2 separate regions of the Homo sapiens genome follow, and region 2 is linked to region 1. The links come from fine-mapping of genetic effects on gene expression. A gene starts in region 1. The other region holds a variant in brackets. All regions are shown on one strand. Distances are from middle to middle.

Evidence for each region. PIP is the estimated chance that this variant, and not a neighbour inherited with it, causes the effect.
Region 2: its variant is fine-mapped to the expression of DRC7 in testis (GTEx, PIP above 0.99).

What each region holds. Positions count from the first base shown.
Region 1 is chr16:57,693,318-57,696,227 of GRCh38, reverse strand. It overlaps DRC7 (dynein regulatory complex subunit 7), which reads right to left and starts at 1,422. Exons shown (of 19, transcript NM_001289162.2): 1 at 1,376-1,422.
Region 2 is chr16:57,716,169-57,719,078 of GRCh38, reverse strand. It overlaps DRC7 (dynein regulatory complex subunit 7), which reads right to left. Exons shown (of 19, transcript NM_001289162.2): 9 at 604-732. Among named protein-coding and RNA genes, the nearest start is that of KATNB1, 18 kb to the left of the region's middle. The variant C/A (reference allele first, on the strand shown) is at 1,575.

The sequences.
Region 1 (2,910 bases):
AAACCTCAGCTTCTATGGGGGTCCCTGTTCCACACCACCCAACGCCATCCCAGCTGATGCACTATCTGCAGCCTCCCAGCTGGGGTCTTTCCATTTCTGTCCTCGAACATCTGTTTTCCTTACGGCAAATGGGGGTCCAGAGATGAGGAAAACAAACGAAACCCACAGGACAAAGGGGGCGAGTAGTAAGGAAAAAAAGCAGAATCCCCTTGATTTTCTAATCATCCCCCACTTCCCTGGGTGAAGCCAGGAGCAAGAGGGCAGAAGGGAGCAGCAGATAAAGGCTGGCCCCAATTTCCAACTCCACACCCACATGGGCCACCTCGGCCTCCTAGGGAGGTGAGTCCCTGGCCACCAGCCACGACTGAGCCTGGTTGGGGAAACCCTGGCTTTGCCAGTAGCTCCTGCTGGACCCTTGGGTCACTGTCTGCGCCTTTCTGTGCCTTAGTTTCTCTTTATAGTAGGAAGGGAGGGCAGATATTTTCTGTCCAATTCTGACATTCTGTGCTCTGGGACTCAGGAGGGGACGAATGCTCATCTGGCTGGAAGCCACCCAAGGCCTAGGTAGCCCAACACCATTCAGGACCCCAGATCCTCAGGGGAGAACCTCTAGCCAAGCAGCACTTCTCAGTGATCAGATCCATTTGTTGGCCTCTTGGTCCCAGAGACAATGAGCCCAGGAAGGGCAGTCATCACCATTACAAGGCATTTACAGTTTGCTGAATGCCTACTGTGTGTCAGACCTGTGCTGAGGGTTGTACGGAGATCATCTCACTTATCCTCTACTGACTCTATGAGGCAGACACTGAGGACACCCACTTTGCAGATGAGAAGATTGGGGCCCAGAGAAGTTAAGTGCACTGCTTAAGGTACAGCCAGTAAGTAGCAGGTCTGGGATTTGAACCCCTGTATTTCTGGTTGTGAAACCTGTGTGTCTCAGGCTGGAAGAGATATGAGATGGGGAAGTGCTAGAAGGGATGGTGGGGGTGGGGGAGTGGTGGGCAAGGAAAGAAGTAGGCTGAAGAGGAAGCCGACGTGTCAGTCCCAGAACACCATCAGAGGCAGAGCTGGGGAGAAGAACCCACAGCACTTTATTCCCTACACAGGTGGCCTCTTCAGCTATAGCCCAGTGTGGGGAAGGCAGTCTTATCTCAAGGTTCCTTAGATTCTGCCCCAACCCACCGGCCCTTCCCTGCACCCCCTCTCCACCAGCAACTTCCTCCTCCCAACACACATAAACACGCACACACACCCCACCAACAACTTCCCCAGAAAGATCAGGGCTGGAGGCCCCCAGGCAGAAGGGGGCCACCAGCCTCACCCTTTCCCTGCCAGACAGGGTCCAGCCACCCCAAGTCCCTTGCTCCCTCCTCACCCCTCCGAGGACAGCCTGCTCTAGCTGTTAGCCATCTCCATGGTAACAACCTGGGAAGCTGAACGCCGGTCCTGGGAGAGGAGGCTTCTGGGAAATGTAGTCTTCCCAGGTTTCATGGGTCCTTCTGCCAGCGGTGCACTGGTATAGTGGGGCATCAACTTGATAGTTGTTAAACTTTCCAAAATTTTTGTGAAACACAGCCATTATTAAAAATTAAGAGGGCTGGGCACGGTGGCTCACACTTGTAATCCCAGCACTTTGGGAAGCCAGGGCGGGAGAATCCTTTGAGCCCATGAGTTCAAAACCAGCCTGGGCAATATATAGTGAGAACCTCTCTAAAAAAAAAAAAAAAAAAAATTGGCCATGGGGTTATTTACACCACAAAAATTAGCAAACGCCAAGACCAGGGCTTTTCCTCTGAGCCAGCCAGTTGTTAAACATTTACCAGCACAGCACAGCCCCTGCCCCACGGCATGCCGAATGTGGCCTTGATCGAGACAGACAGAAACCAGTGTGGGGCCTGGAGTAGCTGCCAGCTGCGGTGGACAGAACCAGGCTGCCTTGACTGAGTCCTGGGTTCTAGTCCAGGCCGGAGCTGTGATGTAGAACATTACCTCGAAGTACGGGGAAAACCTATCCATTAGGCTAGTGGCTCATGAAAATGTTTAATTTCTTTTAAATTCAGAAGAAAAAAATGAGAATAATAATGACTATATAAGTGTGAATCTGCCCTGAATTATATCTGTGTTTTTACCAATACAGTCCTAAAATATAATCTTCACTGTTTTATTTTTGGAGGGAGGGGTGCATGGGCCTTTTTTGGTCAGGGGATAGGGCTGCCAGGAGGGAATCCAGACTGTCACTGTGCTGACAAGTTTGCACAGTTAGTGTTACTGCTAGAAACTTAGGAATTGCCTCAATTCTCATGAATAGAGAATGATGTTCCCCCTCCCAGCTGGAATATCATGCAGCCATAAAAATAAGCTGTAAAGGATCAATTGCACTGTGGAGAGCTCACGAGACAGTGTGTGTAGTATTTCAGACTTGGTGCTAAAGGATCAATTGCACTGTGGAGAGCTCACGAGACAGTGTGTGTAGTATTTCAGACTTGGTGCTAAGCAACTCGTAATTACCTCTGTGGGGAACTGGCTGGGATGAAGGCAGGAAGGGAGGAGGGAGGAGAAAGGAAAACAGGTGATGCGTTATGCTAGTGGGATGCAGCATAGGCTTCATTGTCCTTTTTCAACCCTATGCAACACTTCATTCCTTTTACATATTTATTCATTCCTTTTTCTCTTCATACCCACTTTCATTTCCCACCTCTATAAAGTAACCATTCTGATGTGTATTTTTTTTTTCCAAAATGAGTATTGTTTGGCATGCTGGTGTTTTTAATATATGTTTAATATGAGACTGAACAAATATATCCTTCTGGTTCTTATATTTTCATGAAGGGCTGTGTTTTTAAGATCTCTCCACGTTATTGTGTGGATCCACACTTATTACCTCTTCGTCCTTCCAGTGACGGGCACTCG
Region 2 (2,910 bases), 23 kb before region 1:
GCCAGCTCTGGGACTCCCAGGGGGTTGCAGAGCGGGGTGTTATGACCCCGCTCTGCAACTTTCTTTTTCTAAATTTATTTTTATTTTTATTTTTTGTGGTGGGGTGGGGTTGCGCAGGCTGGAATGCAGTGGCATGAACATGGCTCACTGCAGCTTCGGCCTCCCAGTCTCAAGTGATCCTCCTGCCTCAGCCTCCCAAGTAGCTGGGACAACAGGTGCATGCCACCACAGCCAGCTAATTTTTAAATTTTCTTGTAGAGACAGGGTCCCACTATGTTGCCCAGGCTGGCAAGGGACATGCTTTCCAAAGGAGCAGGGCAACTCCTGAACAAGGTGGACGATATGGGGGGCAGAAGACCTGACGTCAAGTCCTGTCCCTTCCGTAACCCACTGGGAGGTCCTGGGTAGGTTTCTGGCCTTTCTGGGCCTCAATGTGCCCATCTGTAAAATAAGGGAATTGCTCAAGCCTTCCTGCTTTGAGGAACCCATCACTGGTCTACTTGGGCCATCCCCCACTGCCACACATATGCTGCTGGGGACACTTGTCAGGCTCCCTGAAGCCTTCACACACATTCCCTGGGCTCTCGAGCTGCTGAGACTCACCAGATTTTCCACATCATCCTCATCGTTTATCCCACTGTCGTCTTCTTCAGTCAAGGACAGCTGAGACTTATCAGTCCCCAGGAGCATGTACTCCCATCTCACAGGGTCACCCAGGTCAAAGATCAAGTCCTGTTGGGGATGAGGGCAGTCAACTGAGTGTACCCCACAGCCACCACGTCCCCACCTGATCCATGGGGAGTTGGGAGATGGCTACTCCGGGGCAGAGAAGGGACCTGGGCCCAGGGCTTGGGGAAGCAGAACGTCAGTCCCAGGTGGCTCTGAGAGTCCATGCCCACACTCCTCATCCCAACAGGGAAACTGAGGCCCCGAGGGGGAGCAGAACTCCCTGCCCATCATTCAGCCTCCCTGTGAGGAAATCTCGTGTTGACCTCTGTGAAAGACAAGGAGGCTCTCTGGCCTGGGCTAGACCTGGATGTGCAGGTCTTTCCGCATCGGCTGGGCAGTGCTTAGAGCCAATGAAAACAAACCAGCAAGATTTGATGGCAGAAGGGTCTAGCAACTCCCAGGAAGTGGAAGGTTTTTTAAAAAGGCTTCCTCCTGTTTATTTTACCCATGCCAGGAACAAGGGAAATAGGCAGGCACACGTGGAAGTTATACATAAGATGCAGGTGGAGAGCCGGGCATGGTGGCTCATGCCTGTAGTTCCAGCACTTTGGGAGGCCAACACAGAAGGATCACTTGAGCCCAGGAGTTCAAGACCAGCCTGGGTAGCAAAGGGAGATCCCATCTCCACAATTTCTTTTCTTTTTTTTTTTTGAGACAGAGTCTCACTCTGTCGCCCAGGCTGGAGTGCAGTGGCGTGATCTCGGCTCACTGCAACCTCTGCCTCCCAGGTTCAAGCGATTTTCCTGCCTCAGCCTCCTGAGTAGCTGGGATTACAGGCACATGCCACCATGCCTGGCTCATTTTTATATTTTTAGTAGAGATGGGGTTTCACCATTTTGGCCAGG[C/A]TGGTTTCGAACTCCTGACCTCAAGTGATACGCCTGCCTTGGCCTCCCAAAGTACTGGGATTACAGGCATGAGGCACCGTGCCTGGCCTTTTTTTTTTTTTTTAAGCCAGTGCATGGTGTTATGCACCTGTAGTTCTGACTACTTGGGAGGCTGAGGCAGGAGGATCACTTGATTCCAGGAAGTTGAGGCTGCAGCGAGCTGTGAACACACCACTGTACTCCAGCCTGGGAGACAGAGTAAGACCCTGTCTCTCCAAAAAAAAAAAAAAAACAGCAGGTGGGTGGGAATTTCTCCTCCATGGAGTGTGTCTGCCACCTTCTTTTATTTTTCTTTTCTTTTTTTTTTTGAGACAGGGTCTCCCTCTGTTGCCCAGGCTGGAGTGCAGTGGTATGATCTCGGCTCACTGCAACCTCTATCTCCCCGGTTCAAGTGATTCTCCTACCTCAGTCTCCTGAGTAGCTGGGACTACAAGTGCTCGCCACCACAGCCCAGCTAATTTTTGCATTTTTAGTAGAGACAGGGTTTCACCATGTTGGTCAGGCTGGTCTCAAACTCCTGACCTCTTTTCACCCAGCCCACCTGAGTCCTCAGTCCCCTCAATAAAAGTGGCTCATCTGTCAGATAATTCCTAGAAGGTGGGGAGCACCTCACATTCTAATCAACCTTCCTAGAGCAAGGTGTTCTCCCCACCCTAAATCATGTTCCAGAGGAAATCAGAGGCTGCAGAACAGCTGCCTGGAGGGGTGTTAATATTAAGCTGTCCTGAAGCCAACTCTAAGCCTAGTACTCACTGTCATGTGTGGGTCCTGGGAGGGCTCCTGAGTATTTCTCTGCCCTAGCTCGTGGGTGGAGGGGAGAGAAGTGGGGGGCACAGCAGAGGAGAGTTGGGGAGAGAACTGCTGGTAGATGTCACAGCGACTGTGGCAAAGCTTAATGGGCTTAGTGGATAGGAACCCAATTGTATAGATATTTGCCTTTTTTCACTCTTTTTTTTTTTTTTTCAGATGGAGTCTTGCTCTGTTGCCCAGGCTGGAGTGCAGTGGCATGATCTCGGCTCACTGCAACCTCTGCCTCCTGGGTTCAAGCGATTCTCATGCCTCAGCCTCCTGAGTAGCTGGGATTACAGGTGCCCGCCACCACACCCAGCTAATTTGTGTATTTTTAGTAGAGATAGGGTTTCACCATGTTGGCCAGGCTGGTCTTGAACTCCTGGCCTCAAGTGATCCACCTACCTCGGCCTCTCAAAGTCCTGGGATTAAAGGCGTGAGCCACTGTGCCCGGCCAACCTATTCGCACTCTTGGCCTAAATTTTGTTACTTTTGTAAACCAGTGTAA